Linked DNA regions of Homo sapiens: region 2 is linked to region 1. The links come from fine-mapping of genetic effects on gene expression. A gene starts in region 1. The other region holds a variant in brackets. All regions are shown on one strand. Distances are between the middles of the regions. Region 1 holds the start of LSAMP (limbic system associated membrane protein). Region 2 overlaps LSAMP (limbic system associated membrane protein).

The links. PIP is the estimated chance that this variant, and not a neighbour inherited with it, causes the effect.
Region 2: its variant is fine-mapped to the expression of LSAMP in lymphoblastoid cells (GEUVADIS, PIP 0.95).

The regions. Positions count from the first base shown.
Region 1 is chr3:116,440,713-116,449,058 of GRCh38, reverse strand. It overlaps LSAMP (limbic system associated membrane protein), which reads left to right and starts at 3,572. Exons shown (of 7, transcript NM_002338.5): 1 at 3,572-4,182. The coding sequence starts at 4,028.
Region 2 is chr3:116,306,974-116,315,319 of GRCh38, reverse strand. The region is part of intron 1 of LSAMP (limbic system associated membrane protein); the gene reads left to right. Among named protein-coding and RNA genes, the nearest start is that of LSAMP-AS1, 49 kb to the left of the region's middle. The variant C/T (reference allele first, on the strand shown) is at 5,175.

The DNA.
Region 1 (8,346 bases):
CTAAACAGCCTAAATTAGGGAATTTTTAAAATATTGTCTTTTTAAAAAATTGCATCTTACTTTCAGTCATCATAGTAAGTCAATTTAGTTTAACAAAAGCTGCCAAGAAATGGACTTTATTTAATAAAGATATTTTTAAAAACCTTTAATTACATTATATGATTTTTATACACATATGTGTTTATAATTTGTTTCTGATTAGGTAGGTTAGGCAATTCTATAATTCTGATTACAATCCAGATTTACTTTAATATATCCATTTCTCAGAGTGAATGTAGAGACAAATTCCAGATTTGATTGAGTTACTACAAATTCCACATTCCTACTACTTTGATGTAAATTACTTCATATTACAGTATGTTAAACATATGTTTTCTCCAAGCACCACCAGGCAAGTTCTTCTGGTAGTATGAGGTTACCAGTATAGGTATTAGCTAACAATCATGTATAAACATCTTCTGTTTATGATATGCTACCAGCCACCATACTTCCTCCTTGTCCTGAAAAAAACTTTCCTTTCTTCATACAAAATCTAGTTGACTGACACAGGAGAATACTTATACTCTTTAAATGTCTAATCCTTCCCCTCAGAGTATCTCTGCTCTTACTGGGGGTCATACTATTCACCTAGCACCAGCAATGGAAACAGATGATTCTCATAGCTACCAGTCCCTTTTATCTCTCTTTTCTTCCACTTGACATGGAAGAAGCACCAAACCAAAGGATATATGTTAATCGAAGCCTTTGTCTAAGCCAACTCTTCATTCCTAAGTGCTTAAAATCATCATTCTCAGTAAACTATCGCAAGAAGAAAAAACCAAACACCGCATATTCTCACTCATAGGTGGGAATTGAACAATGAGATCACATGGACACAGGAAGGGGAATATCACACTCTGGGGACTGTGGTGGGGTGTGGGGAGGGGGGAGGGATAGCATTGGGAGATATACCTAATGCTAGATGACGAGTTAGTGGGTGCAGCGCACCAGCATGGCACATGTTTACATATGTAACTAACCTGCACAATGTGCACATGTACCCTAAAACTTAAAGTATAAAAAAAAAAAACAAAAAACAAACAAACAAACAAAAAACAAAAAACAAAACAAACAAACAAAAAAATTAGCCTGACAAGGATGGTCAAGTCTGTTGGTGGTGTGGGGAAAGGGAGGGTGCTCTTTTCTCTGCAATCTTGGCAGAAAATTATGTAATCCTTGCATCTTTGATCTTCGTTTGTTTGTTTGTTTGTTTGTTTGGCACTTGAAGCTCATTTGTCCATTGATACCGGGATTCACAGGATTATGAGTTTTTTAGTCAACTATCCACTTGGCCTAACTATTTCTCCTATGGCAAAATGGATTCCAAGTTTTAAACAGCTGAGTTATAACTTAGTGGTCGAACATTGGTTTATTAACTGGGCACTGTGTATAATCCCTGACATAGGACACCTTGATTTATATAAAATGAATGCACAGTACACATAAAATTAATTGAACTCCATCAATCATGGATTTGTGACAATTCAGGTTCCAATCCTCCGTGTTTTCTTAAAAGCAAAATAGGTCTTCCTTTTTTTCCTCACGTAATCTGTAAGAGTTCATCTATCTTTTAAACTGAAAACATGCGCAGAAAAAGTGCTTTGAGTATTCTGAGGACAAGCCAGTTTCAGCACAGTGTTTCTTTAAGGCTTGTGCTCTGGTGGGGTTTGATAAGGATTCCTAAACATGTTTCTTTCTTTCTTTTTATTTTATTTTTGGCAAATGTCCTAGGCTAAACATTTGCTTACATAAGAGGGATGGGTATAATATCTATGTACATATTTATTTTTATATATATGGAATATTTATGGAAAGATATATAACAAACTTAAAATATATGTTGCCTCCAAAAAAGAGAAATGGGTTGCCTAAAGACGGGAATAAGAAGAAAACTACGGCCGGGCGCCGTGGCTCACGCCTGTAATCCCAGCAGTTTGGGATCCCAGCAGTTTGGGAGGACGAGGCGGGTGGATCACGAGATCAGGAGATCGAGACCATCCTGGCTGACACAGTGAAAACCCGTCTCTACTAAAAAAAATACAGAAAAAATTAGGCGTGGTAGCGGGCGCCTGTAGTCCCAGCTACTCGGGAGGCTGAGGCAGGAGAATGGCGTGAACCCGGGAGGCGGAGCTTGCAGTGAGCCGAGATTGAGCCACTGCACTCCAGCCTGGGCAATAAAGTGAGACTCTGTCTCAAAAAAAAAAAAAAAAAAAAAAAGAAGAAGAAAACTGCAATTCACTCTATAGCATCTTGTACCATTTGGTTTTTGTACCATATGAATACTTTCATTATTTAAATAAATATAATCAAAGAAGAGAAAAATAAAGTCCTTGGCTGGTACAAACACATTTTTTATCCTCAACATCAGTAATGAGGGAGATGTCCAAGAGTGTGGGGCTGTCACTTGAGTGACTATCAGTGGTCTTTATGGTCCTCATCACTTGCTTGGCTCATGGAATAAAAGGAGTGACAAATGATGGTAACCTGTCTGCCATTAGCAGGAGTACTGCACACAACCTTACTTAGTGTCTCCTTGCAAATGACAAGCTTTCTGATTTACAAATCTCCTTCCTTGCATATGAACATTTTGAGAAGTAAGTGCCAGGAGGAACTTGGGTAGCAATTCAATGTGCCCTTTAAATAGTAATCCTTAATACCATTACTCATGTGTAGGATTGAGTGAGAGTTTCCTGGAGAGTGAAGTTGATTTAGGGATCAGGGATCAGCTGCTGAGGCTGGCACTTGGAAAAAACAAGCCAAGCATTCACACCCCAGACCACTCAATACCAGCATTGTCTCCAATCCATCTTTCATAAAGGGGTTCCAAGAGGGGGAGGGGATGAAGGAAGGAGAGAAAATAAACCATTTTAATCCTGTAAGAGAAAGTGCAGGAAAGAGGAAAGAATGAACAAGACTTGAACACGCAAAGCCAGTTGCCAAGAATGTTTCGTTTGAAATCAACTTTGGCTTTTAATCTTAGACTCCACTGTCAAGTTTCTCCTCAGTTTCCTTCTCCCATCTTTCAGGACATTCCCCACCCTCACTCCCCACCTCAAAGCTTTCCTGTCCTCTGTCCCACTCCCCTCATTTGCAACTCTCCTTCCCACCTCCTTTTTCTTCTTTCCTCACCCCTTCCCTCTCCTTTCCTGGACTCTTTCTCCTGTTCTTTTATAACTTAAGTCCCTCTCCTTCTCCCCTCTCTCCTGAACAGTACCTCTAAGCTCCGTTCCCCCTTCTTAAGGAAATCAGCCAGGCCTCAGATGGAGCTGTCGTCCTGACAACCCAAAGGCGCATCAGGCTTTCATTGAGGCTGGCTGCTGCTGAAGGGGGCAGTTGTGCAAAGCGAGGGGCCACGTCGAGGGGAGGGCGGAGGGGATGACGTGGAGGGGCTGTTGAAAACCAGCAGGGTGGGGGGAGGGTGGGGGGGTGGGGGGGAGGTGCTGAGCTGAGAGAGCGCCAGGGACTGGGAGAAACAGGAAAGGGAGGAGGGGGAGAGAGGCTCTGGGTTGCTGCTGCTTCTGCTGCTGCTGCTGCTGTGTGGCTGTTTCTGTACACTCACTGGCAGGCTTGGTGCCGGCTCCCTCGCCCGCCCGCCCGCCAGCCTGGGAAAGTGGGTTACAGAGCGAAGGAGCTCAGCTCAGACACTGGCAGAGGAGCATCCAGTCACAGAGAGACCAAACAAGAACCCTTTCCTTTGGCTTCCTCTTCAGCTCTTCCAGAGGGCTTGCTATTTGCACTCTCTCTTTTGAAATTGTGTTGCTTTTACTTTTCACCCTTCTGCTTGGGTTTTATGAGGGCTTTGTTAAGTCTTAGAGGGAAAAGAGACTGAGCGAGGGAAAGAGAGAGGCAAAGTGGAAAGGACCATAAACTGGCAAAGCCCGCTCTGCGCTCGCTGTGGATGAAAGCCCCGTGTTGGTGAAGCCTCTCCTCGCGAGCAGCGCGCACCCCTCCAGAGCACCCCGCGGACCCGCACCTCGGCGTGGCCACCATGGTCAGGAGAGTTCAGCCGGATCGGAAACAGTTGCCACTGGTCCTACTGAGATTGCTCTGCCTTCTTCCCACAGGACTGCCTGTTCGCAGCGTGGATTTTAACCGAGGCACGGACAACATCACCGTGAGGCAGGGGGACACAGCCATCCTCAGGTAGGGCTTTCGGGCAACTTTTCTGCTGCGCGCGTCTACACGTGTGTGTGTGTGTGTGTGTGTGTTTGTGTGTGTGTGTGTGTGTGTGTCTGATCTCCTTGAACTCCAGCTCCTGATGCTGCAGGCTTGTGGTGTGTGTGTGTGTGGTGTGTGTGTGTGTGTCCCTGTTTTACTGACTGGTTGGCATTATAGCTAACAAAATTCAAGGGAATTCTGGTCCCTGTCAAGCAGCAGTGGTGTTGGTTAAATGTTGTTCGGTTCTTAGGACCTTGTTTCTCTTATCAAGGAAGCCTAACTTCACCCATGGCATTAGTGACTTCTGGGCAGTATTCTCACTATTGTAATTGCTGTGGCATTGCACTTGAGAGTTTTGTTGGGGGTCCTTAATTCTGAAAGAAAGGTTGTTGGATTATGGCTCTCAGAGAGTAGTACACAGTACTGCATTCTCCTTGCTCCTCCCGTGTCTGTGTGTGTGTGTGTGTGTTTTTCATGCCAACACACACACACACATACACACACACACACACATATCAAGGTTGTGTGTGAGGGTTTCTGATAGAAGACTTTCTGTAAGGATCTTCTAATTGACATGGAGGGCAATAAATCAATCTTAGAACTTTGGTTGGTTACTGAGCCTTTCCTGGAATGTGGATATAAATCAACACAAGATATGAAGAGCAGAAAGAAAAGGAATTTGCCAAATTGCTGATATTTAAGAGTAGGAGTGTTAAACACAGAGGTTGGGAGAGAATTAACCTGGCATAAAATGGATATTTCAAATTGATTATTGACTTCAAAGTCTTTTTTTCTGTGCAGCTCTGGCAAACTCTAAAATAATTTGAGATTGAAATTTGGAAAGAAGAGTCCCAAGTCCTTGGGAGTTTGACCCCTATCAGGTACTGTGAGCTAGAGAGACTCAAATGAGACCTAGTCATATTTTTATTTCTAAAATGCTCCAAGGTTATTTTTTGTGCTTCTCTTTTCTCTTCCTCCTCTCCACCAACTGTACCTACCCCTTGTTCTTTTTTCTAGCTTTCCTTGAATTTCTGGCAGATGCTAACAAAAAGAAAGAATCACTCTCCTTGGAGATCTTTTAAAAATCTCATTTCCTCCAAATAAAATGACCCAGTGTCAGTCTGTCTATCTAGGTAATATTGCTTGTTGTGGCAATAAAAACACAGTATACAATAGAAAATAAACCTCTAATCTGTGTGCAAGGAGCTGATAGTGCATAAACCCTGGGGCATCAGGGAGCAGTTCTCTAGCAGAGCTGCCGACAGCAGCAAAGTTTTCTTTCCTTTTCTCAGAAATAAATTTGGTTGGCTGTCACAGTGTCCTGCTTTGGGAGCTCTAGCCTTGTTAGAGACGAAAGTGTGTGTTGTGTGCCGTGCATTGCATGTGTGTGTGTTGTGTGGGTATGTGTTTCTCCAGATTGTAAAAAGTAAGAAAATGCTAATGTGTAAGCACTCCTTTCTTCATTTCCTGAGCTTTGGGTGATTACGAATCCCAAAGATCCTACTATCCAAAGCAGATTTTCCCTTCTAGCTCTTCAGCCTTATAAACCTGCATGTGTGATTTATCCACATGGAGTAATCAGATTTACAGAGTAATTTATCTGTTTGCAAAGGAATTTGGACATGGTGCAGAAAATGTTTTTGCAAACACACAAGCATGCCATTTCAATTGCTAACATTCATACTCCCTAACATCATTAACCCTTTAATGGTGAAGCACTCTATATAAATATATGCTATCCCTAGAAATTTTGTTCACTGGTTACAAGATTGAATATGAGAAAAATGAATAACTTGAATGTATATGTTTTTTATTTCAGTGTCCTTGAGCTTTGTAAGGTCTTTCTAAGTTAGCATCTCCTATACCTTAAACTACAGTTGTCTAAGAGTTAGATAAGTATAGAAATGTTAATTCAGAAGAATAAAAACATTCTTATGCTTTCATACAGAGGCAGTCTCACTGTATACATATCTATGGATGATACATATGTGCTTTTGTATGTCTATGGCGCAATAGAAACAGAGTTTTAAACATTACGCTTTAGCAGACATTACAGTGTGGAAATAGGGACTCTGAGAGAAAAAATAAACACAGAACCACTTATTCTCTGGGAAAGAAAAGACAGACAAACAGAGCATGCAAATAAGTCGCCTATGAAACACCATTTCTTTTCCAGACCTCACCTTACATGCCCTCTTTTTTATTTCCTTGCCTTGGACAAGGGTTTATTTTGGGGTTGGTGGAGCTTCATCAGAATTAACTATGGAGAGAATTCCCTTTGTCTTCTTAGCTGACCTTCTTCTCAATCTCTTTAAAACCGGTAAGCTTTCTGGGTCAGTTTCCTGGTGAAGAATGGTGCTCTTGCTTTCTGCTTATAAGGCCAGCCTGGGAAAGGTGTGTTTTCACTTTATTTGTGACATTTTACTGGGTGCATGAGCTTTCAGGGAAGGAAAGGAAGGAGAACTTGATTCATTGGAAGCCACAGTAGATGTCTGGCACCGAGAAAGTGAAATGGCTAGGAGAAAAAAATAATTCTCTTAGTGAGTTTGTGGCCCCGAATGATATGAGATGGCAACAGGAGACAAGGGAGGTTTGTAATTCTGGTAATCCAGTGACAGGAGTTTGGCTGTCTGTCCCCAAAACATTTACCTTCACTGACTTAAAGTTTTCTGTGAAACAAGAGTTTCTTTTGGGGATTGATGCTCATTTTTGTATAATTATGATCTTTAGTGTAATTATGCATCAGATAGGAGAGTGCACACTAGGCTTCAGGTCTTGCCCTCAATTTCTATCATTTTGAAAATAATAAAAACTATATAATTATGGTGACAAAATTGGAGGGAAAGAGAGGTAGCTTCATGTATACATACCTAACTCAATTATTTTCTAGAGGAGATTACAGACCTGTGTGAGAAATTATATAAAGAACTAAAGATAACCACAATACCAACTTCTGTCCCAGGGACAAAGAATCAAAGTGTGATTCACAGAGTAGTGGCGGCAGCAGCAGCAGCCTTGGCGGTCCTCCCTAAATAGAACAACCAGAATCTGCATTTATATTTGTGTGTACAGGAAAGAGTGAGACACGCTTATCCGCAGGACTTCAGTCATGAAGCTGCCTCAGGTGCTTTTCTAAACAGAGTCTACCTGCCTCATTACCAGCTCCCACAGGAGTAAGAGTTCAATTACAGGATAAGTTTCTAACACTGTTTCTTCCCTCCTACCCTCATACCCATAGAGATTCACCTCCTGCTTAATATTGGAAGGTTGAGACTATGTATTAATAGTTCTCTTACAAGTCAAAGAATAGCAGAAATAGAGGGTATTTCAAACCAACCTTTAAAATTTCATTTTTAATAGTCCTACTGACCATATTTTCAACATGAGTGGCAGATTTCTGAAAAGATAATAATAAAATATTTGGCCACAAAGAACCATGTTAGTTTTATAATACATTATATTATCACATATCTATTCATAAGGCAACTTTGTAAAACGTACATACACATGCGTATCTGGATATAAAACAAGTAGGCATGTGATAAAATACAGGGACTTCACACTTGTGATTTTAAATATTCTAAATTCAAGGTAATAAAATTTTATTTAGCTCACAATTCTGACCCTATCTGATGTTTACAGGATATTATAATACTTTTAATGATAATAACATTGTTCCCAGTTAAATGTTAGCGTACCTAACAAGTATTACAGATTCCCAAGGAAACTAAGTATCTAAATGAAGAATAGCTAATGTTTAGTTTTTTCAAAGTTGGGGTCTTTAATTCCCTGTTTGTTTCTACACCAAGGGGGGAAAAGAAGAAACAACAAAAGGAGATTTGATTATTTGATAGTGAAATATAAAGATCTTGTTCAAATTTCTGTTTATCTTCTGTAAATCATGTGGAATGGCAATATTCACTAATGAAGTGTCAACCCTCAAATTCTTGATACGATATGTGATTTTCTATGACTTACAATTCACTATTTGAAACAAACTGTGGGCATGGGCCTACTGGGTAAGTTTGTGACCATCATGAAATTTTCTTTTTCTGTAGTTAAATCACTAAATGTTATCAAAATTTGTTGGTTAGCCCTGATACTGTAAGGATCGTGCATTGCAGATAAATCCTTTATCAAATATACTTA
Region 2 (8,346 bases), 130 kb after region 1:
AAGACAGTGTACATAAGACTGGACCCCTATTGCATCTGAGGAAATTTTTGATGCCTTAAAGAGGCTATAGGAAGAAGTAGGCCTCTGAGTGCATCTTGGAGACTTGGTAGGTAGAATCTGATAGATAGAAACTGGGATATGGGTAAGAACAATACAGGTGGAGGGGATAGAATAAGCAAAAGCCTGGAGGCTACAAAGCCTGGAAGTGTGTTTAGGGAAATTGAAAGTCATTCAGTTTAGCTGGTAGGTAATGATCCTGTAGTATCAGAGCACAGTATTGAAGCAAAAACCTGAAAATTGAGGTGATTTGCCAAACTGAAGGGACATTCTGTTTTGAAATTGAGGGTCATTCTATTTCAGGGCCAATGATGTTTTTATTCAATATACAGTGCTTAAACATTATCATTGTTTATTAAACAAAAAAACCCCCAAGAATTGATATTGCATTCTCATTCCTGGGAATAGTGGGGGTCTTTATTCTTTTTGTAAGAGAAAAATGTTTCATTCTTAGAACCTATATATGGTCTTTTTGGATGAGTTCAGTTTTATATAGATGTTGACAGCTCTAAAAATAGCAGCACTAATGGTCCAGCTAAGCACGCAGTACAGCAACCTCAAAGGGCTTCCAGACGCAGGCAGGGGAGCTCTAAGTAAAACATGATTCCTGGAACTACCTTATCTGTCTTTATCAGTTAAACCCATAACTATATTCTGACATAGCCAGTTTCCACAAACACCATTGTGAATTTTATTTTCCTTTCATTCAGATGGGCTTATTTCACATTTTACAGGATGGGGGATGCTAAGTAAATTCTCCTGTGAGATCTCACGCCATTTTCTTTTTAACGTTACTGAAAAGTGTTTGGCAGGTTTGTCCTTTAATTAATCTGTTTATGCATCTGTCTTTCCCACCAGCCTATGAGTTCTACCAGGAGTTTCTTGAAATCTTTTGCCATGTTTCTAAGCATTGTCCTAAGGATTTTACATGGATTCACCTTCATAACAATTCTATGAAGTTGGCACTATTATGAATTCAGTTTCGCAAATTAGCGATCTGATGTATAGAGAGGGTAAGAAAATTATCCAGGTTATATAATTATTAGATGTTGGACTCAATCTATTTCTGGAGCCTGAGTTCTTAAATACATTGGGTTAGGAACTAGGACACTGAATCTCTAGTTCTAGGTTGGCTACAAACTAGCTGAGCAATCTTAAGCAATTATCTTAACTTCTCTGTACCACATTTCTTTATGTGTAAAATAGTAACTGCATTCTTTTACTGTATTATTGTGAGAATTATGTTATACAGCTGTGGGAAAGTGCTTCACACAAGACTTCGTACAGTCCAATTTTGTTTTTTGTTTTTGAGACTGAGTTTCACTCTGTAGCCCAGGCTGGAGTGCAATGGTGTGATCTCGGCTCACTGCAATCTCTGCCTTCCAGGTTCAAGCAATTCTCCTGCCTCAGCCTCCCAGGTAGCTGGGATTACAGGTGCACACCACCACACCTGGCTAATTTTTGTATTTTTAGTACAGACAGGGTTTCACCATGCTGGCCAGGCTGGTCTCAAACACCTGACCTCAGGTGATCCACCCACCTTGGCCTCCCAAAGTACTGGGATGATAGGTGTGGGCCACTGTGCCTGACCACATTCTAAGTTTTCAATAAATGCTAGTTTTTCTTTCTCTCCTGCCCTTCTTTGCTCTAAGAGGCCTATGAACCAACCTTGACCTTTCTAAGGCACATGACTTCGTGTCTCAGTCTGTGCCCAACCCCTGTGGACTAGAAGGTGCTTGCCCTCACTTGAATAAGAGAAAACACAGGCAGTGCCAGAGATTATTGAGAGGGCAGAACTGGATGAGGGTTATTGCAGCTGCCCTTCAGTGACCCATGATGGCAAGGGGCCATCACATCCATACGGGGTCCCATGTGGCCTTGCTGGGTGCATCCGCCTCCAGTCACTCTGTATTGCTAATGTGAGTTACACATGTAATTATCCAGGCAGCAGGCTAAAATACCTCCACAGACAGCAAAGTTTCATCAGCAGAAGGGCACATTTTGTTTCCTGTGACTCCAACAGAGTACTGCCGAGTGTTGCAGAGCTGTGGTGATTAATTGAAGGACAAATTAGAAAGTCATGGAATAGTATGTTGTCTCCATAACCAGGCCTTCATGGGTTAAGCAAAGCAAGAGGTTTAAGAGTGCTTCTGAGATTTTTAGAAATAAAAATATTCATAAAGGTGTTTTTGTGCTATGGGGTCTTCATCAGAATGTTTTTGTTCCAAAGAACTTAGGATCTATATTTGTGCAACTGCGTCCTTAACATTGACTAAGACCATCACTGAAAAATAAGGTGAGGAATGACATTTTAGATAAAAATTTTGTTGGAGAGCAATGTCATGAGTGGAATGCATGCATTTTGTGAGTAAGATATGTGTCTACAGATGAAGACACACACACACAGAAACACACATACACACACACTTGCAAAGACAAATATTGGATTTTTTGGAACATTTGAATGAAAACATTATTCTCTTGTTTTCATTGCATACATCATTGCTGTATTATGGTGGCTTCTTTCGCTCTCTAGTTGACCTTAGTTTCCTGAGAGACATCCCATAGCGTGGGTATGAGGCTAGTGACCTGCACCCCTTCTTGAGGGGAATGTAGGTAGCTGCTAAGCCCTGCATGCTCTGGCATATCTAACAAATGCCTGTGAGAATTGTGAATAGGTTAAAGGCATAGATGATAGAAAAAAAATACAAAAGAAAAAATTAAATGGATTATTTTAAAAATGCAAAGAAGATGGGGAGAGTAAATAACTCAGAATGGAAAGGGGGAAGAGAAGGAGGGGAGCATGCTACTGGCTATTATCTTAATAGCTGCACAGTGTCTGACTCTGTTAAAGGTGCTCAGAATGAATCTTAGAATATTAATGCCCATATTTTATGCCATAGCCTCTAGAGAGGTGAAAGAGAAGTCCAAAGATGGGCAGGGTTGCTGAGCCAACATTTCTAAGGAGCCCTTTTTGTCCGATTCACCTGCCATCTGCAGCCAGCCTCCATATAAACACCTTTTGTGATCAACCCTGATGGATTATTTGTTAGTTTATTTGTTGGGGGAGGGGAATAAAGAGAGGAAAATGTGGGAGTACATGCGAATTTAGGGTGAAGCAAAAGATTTTTAGCTACACAGATCAATACCACCTTTTTCTAGCTTTTTGATAAGAATGCCAAATAGAACTGAGTCAAAAATATCATTGATCAATGGATTGTATCTATTGCTTTTCCCTTTTCTGTATGGTTTTCCACTCCACCAGAGATGAAAATTAAATTGACTTGTCACTATTTTCTCCTCATATAGGCATTCATCTTGCTCAGGGCTTTATTTCTTCAAATTATTCCAATGGCTTACTTAACAGATGTAGTTTCTTTCTTAGTTAAATCAAAAGGTATTTATTGAGCAAGTACTGCTAATACTACCACTGCTACTGCTGGTACTGTTAATACTACTGTCTCTACTACTGCAATGACTGGTCTCATAGTGTTTTAGGCTGCCTTCAAGGTGCATCACCTTATTTAAATTGTACAACAAACCCTTAAGTTATGTACAATTATATGAGGAACTAGGTCTCAAAAGTTTTATAATTTCCTCCAGCTCGTAGTGGCAGGGCTGGACTCCAAGCTGAGATGTGTCTGGTTGTCCGGTTCTAAACCTTTCTACAGGTCACCTTGTAAAGAATAAGGATGGAGCTCAAACACAGATACATAAAGGAATAAAATTAAAACTTGTTCCTGCTTTTAAAATGTAGTGGTTGAAAAGCCAGAAGTATAAATAACTCCAGTTCTGTATAAATGATATTCTCAAATGCTGCATCAGAATCGCTTGGGAGAATTTATTAAAAACATGGATTCCTAGACTGCAACCAAGAACTCTTGGATGAGACTAAGGAATTTGTAAATTAAAAAGAAAAAAAAAGTGAAATTCTCTACTAATTTCAATGTCCAGCCAATTTTGAGAACTACTGTTTTTAATATTGAAACTACTGACTTTAATATTGAAAGTAAATATAAGAAAAGATGAAGTAGTTCCAACGAGAAGGAATGGGAATTGAGAATGGCTGTTTGAGGTTATCTTTATGGTTTTCAGGGTTATCCAGGTCTTAGAAATTACATAATGATTTCTACAAATGATCATCGGTAGCTTTAGACTAGTACCTACTAATTCTGTAAGTGATGATCCTCAACCCTTGCTAATTTGAATAGATCTTGTTATTTCAATGTGCCGTTAAATTGACAAACTTCTCTATAAAACTACGTAGTATGATCTTTCAGGTAACCTAGTCTGGTAATCTAGTTATCCGTGAACTATTCATATCCATGATTTAAAAAAAAAAAAAAAACAACTTATCATCATCTTCCTCCTCACCATCATCATCACCATTTTAAGTTATAACTATCAATATTTTGTTTAGATACATTTTTATGTTCTTGGTCAAGTCAGTTAACTTTTCTGGACCCAAATTTTTCCAAGTATGTAAAGAGGAAATTGAACTTAGTGACCTCAATTTTGTGTAAAGTTATGACATTAAGATCTTTAGGCATCATTTATTAGGAACCCAATTGCCTTGAGAAATTTTTCTTTCGTTGGGAGACTTACTCATCATTTAGTAAATATAGAATCACAACTTCAAAGGCCAGCTCTGGAATAATTAAGAATCTTTCTGGGCAGATTTAAGGTCTGCATCTGAATAGCTGTATATACAGAAAGCCTAAAGGATCAAAATAGTCCAGAACATTTCAGGACTGGACAGCTGGTGAGTAGGTAAAGGTTGCCTGTGCCTCACTCTGTCAGTCAATTTAATGAATATCAAAATCACTCATACACCAAATTGAGAAGCCAAGGATCTCATCTTGACTGAGAATCGGCACCTTCCAGAACCTGACTTAGTTTTGCAAGAGCAGTTTTAGTAGCTAAAAGTTTCACTCTCACCTGCTGCTGCAAGGACTTGCATTGCCAGAGTTGTGTGACTTCTCTTGTCCTTGATTATAATATGAGCAAAAACTGCCTTGAAAAGATAAAGATATTTTACAGTCTGACCTTAAGATGCTCTTGATGGTATGTCTGAAGGAAAAGAAGGAACGTCTGTTCCCAGATAGATTGAGTTCCTT[C/T]CTTATCAGAAGGGTTAAAATAAATATTCTTTCTCTTTTGTGGCTTCCTAGCATTTCTGCAGTAGATAAAAGGGGAAATGTGTGTTGGACTGAGAGTTATGAGGAATCAAATCCAAAGAGATGAGACAAACCTTTCTCTCTGCCAGTGCAGATCAAGTGTGAGTTTGGAGAAATAGAGAAGGAAGGATGTGCCAATCAAAAAAGGTTGACCATGGAAAGAAGAGTCACAAAAACAAGGGCAGCAATACTTGCAAAAACAATATCAAAGGAAAGTCTTGGCTGGCAGACTAAGTGTTCTAGCAATAGCACTAGTCCATGTCTTTGGCCAGCTATTGTAACCAGATGTCATTAAGCATTTTCATCATCCAATCACCTTCCTTGTTCTGATTCTAGGCCCCCTAAATCAACCTCTAATTATAATGTTCTTCCCATGGAGAAAAGACATTGGCCATGGCCAGCGGTTTGTGTGGAGTTGTCTTTCACATCATGAAGTAATAGACTCTTGTTCTTTTTAAAGCATTAATTTGGCTAAGAAACAAATACAAAGTTTATATTTAGATTGCATGTGAAAGCTGGGGAGTGGTCCTCTTGAGTACAGGGACTGGTTAGAAAGTCACTTCCTCATATAGTAAGTAGCCACTAGCCAAATGTAGCTATTTAAATTTAAATTGATTTAAATTAAACTAAATTAAAAATTAAGCTCTTCAATCTCACTAATCACAATTCAAGGGCTAAAAAGTCATACATAGCTCACGGTTACTATATGGAACAGTGCAGACTATCACACATTTTTATTGTCACAGAAAGTTCTGTTGTGCAGCTCTAGGTTAGAAAGTAATTCTTAATTCCTTTACCAGATTATACTTGGTAATCTGCAATGATATACTTAGACCTAGCTGTGCCTCAGCATGTCTATGAAATGGGAAGAAGGATGCTGTCAACTAAATAGGAATTATGTGGGCATTTTAATGTAATTGCTAATTGATGCTTTATAAATAGAACAAAGAATAGTTTGTATATTTAAATATTAATGTGAATCACATTCCCATTTTATTGTGTTCCGTAGGAACTCTATTTAACAATTTTATTTAACAATTTTAAACCTCTCCATCTTTCCAACTGCCTTGCTGTAGAATGAGGCAAAGGGAAATATTGAAAAGTTGTCCTTAATGTTGTCGAAGAATTATAGGCTACTGTAAATTTGTAAAATGTATGTTACTAAATGTGACTTTCAAATAAGCAAAGCTTTACCAGCAAAAGAACTAATGATGATATCTTACGTTTGTGTGCTGCTTTTCTGAAATGCTCTCACATGCATTCTTTGATACTTAACCCTTTGAAATAGTATATTATCATGCCCATTTTACATGTTCAAAAGTGATTTATTCAAGGTCGTAGTGGTAATGTCAGCAATAGAACCTGGGCTTTCAACCCCTAAGTTCATGTTTTATTCTGTTATTCCACTCTGCTTCAGTTGTTAGGACATGTATTATGTTTTAGGACAGGTGACAATAGAAAGAAAATAGAAAATAGAAATCTTGAGAATTTGGAGTCATGAAATATAGACTGGAAATATTGTTCCTCCAGGCCAAAAAGTAGACCTGAACCTTTGGAAGTCACAGGGAAAGAAACTGCTGTCTCATCTTTCCTCTCTGCCTGCTTCATTCACAGAATTTACCTTGCATTCATTCATTCATTAATCCAGTGTAGACTGAGCAATTATTGTCTGTCACACTTGTTAGGCTGTGATGATACAGAGAAGATCAAGACATGCCCTCTAATTTTGAGGACTCCACATTCCTCCGGGGAAAGAGATACATGTTGATTCATATCTTATGGCATAGATGCTGAGAAAGGGTTTATTGTAAAATGCTCTGACAACAAAAAAGGAAGGGGTGATTAATTTTGTCTAGAGGGAGCTTGTCCTGAGCAAAAGCTTCATACTTTGTATAGATGACATGTAAGATGGATCTTAGAGGAAAAGCAGGATCTAATAGGCAATTTTAAAAGATGGTAGGGGGAAAGGTTTTTAGGTAGAAGAAACAGCGTGAGCAAGTTTCTGTTGATTTAAAACAAATAAAAATAGTACCATTTATTGTGCTTATTTGGTTCCAGGCATTTTACGAATGCATTAAACATCTCTTTATTCTCATAACAACACTATGAGATAGAGATTATTATCATGTGCATTTTATAAATAGGGAAATTGAGGCTCAGAGAGGTTAAGAAGTTTATTCTAGATCAAATATCTAATAACTGACACAAGCAGAATTCAAAGGTACACAGCCAGATTTCAGCAATTTTGCTCTTAATCACATAGTGGTTATAATGCTGTATAGTCAATTTTATAATGTGAAAATTTTTTTCTTTTTATGGTATATCATAAGCTGTTTCTCAAGTCATTAAAATTCTCTCTAAATGCTATTTTAATGGTACAGAAACCCATCTTATTGATGCATTATAATTTGTTTAACTAGTCCTTTATTGTTGGACATTAAGTTGTCTCCAATCTTTTACTATTTTGAATAATAGTGCATGACTATTTTTGTGTATCAGGACTTCCTCAACAGGCCCAATCTAAAGGAGAAAGCACCAGGAGATTTTCTTGGTTCTATCACCAAGAATAAGAGCAGTCAGAGAAAGCAAAAGCACATACTAAATGCACTCTATTTTGGATTATATGCTTTGAGAATTGTACCCAGCATGTTGAACAACCCAAGTTGGCTCCATTTAGAGTCTTGAATATTTCTAGGCCTCTGGTACCCAGTTAGTATGTTATTTTAAAGTATTGCAAATTAGTTTTAATATTAACCTAAAAATAATTTAAAAAGTAAATCAGCTGAAAATGTTATTACAAACCCAAATAGAGGTGAACTTTGGATTATCTGCTCTTCTAAATTACTTATTATAGTGTTCTGTCCATTTAAGTGACTGCTGGCAGCTTTTGATTGCTTTGCCCTGAGTCAAATTTGGCAAAGAGAATGCAAAGGTTTAGGTTAAAATGTGAAACTTTTTTCTAACTAAATGCAATTTAAAGTATTAAGCTTCACTTCACCCATACCGATTATATATCTCTTTTCTTGCTTAGTGATGGCATCCATTTTAAGGAACAAACCTGGAAATGCTGAGCAAAGAACACATACCCTTCATTTCCAAAGGTTCATTTCCCACT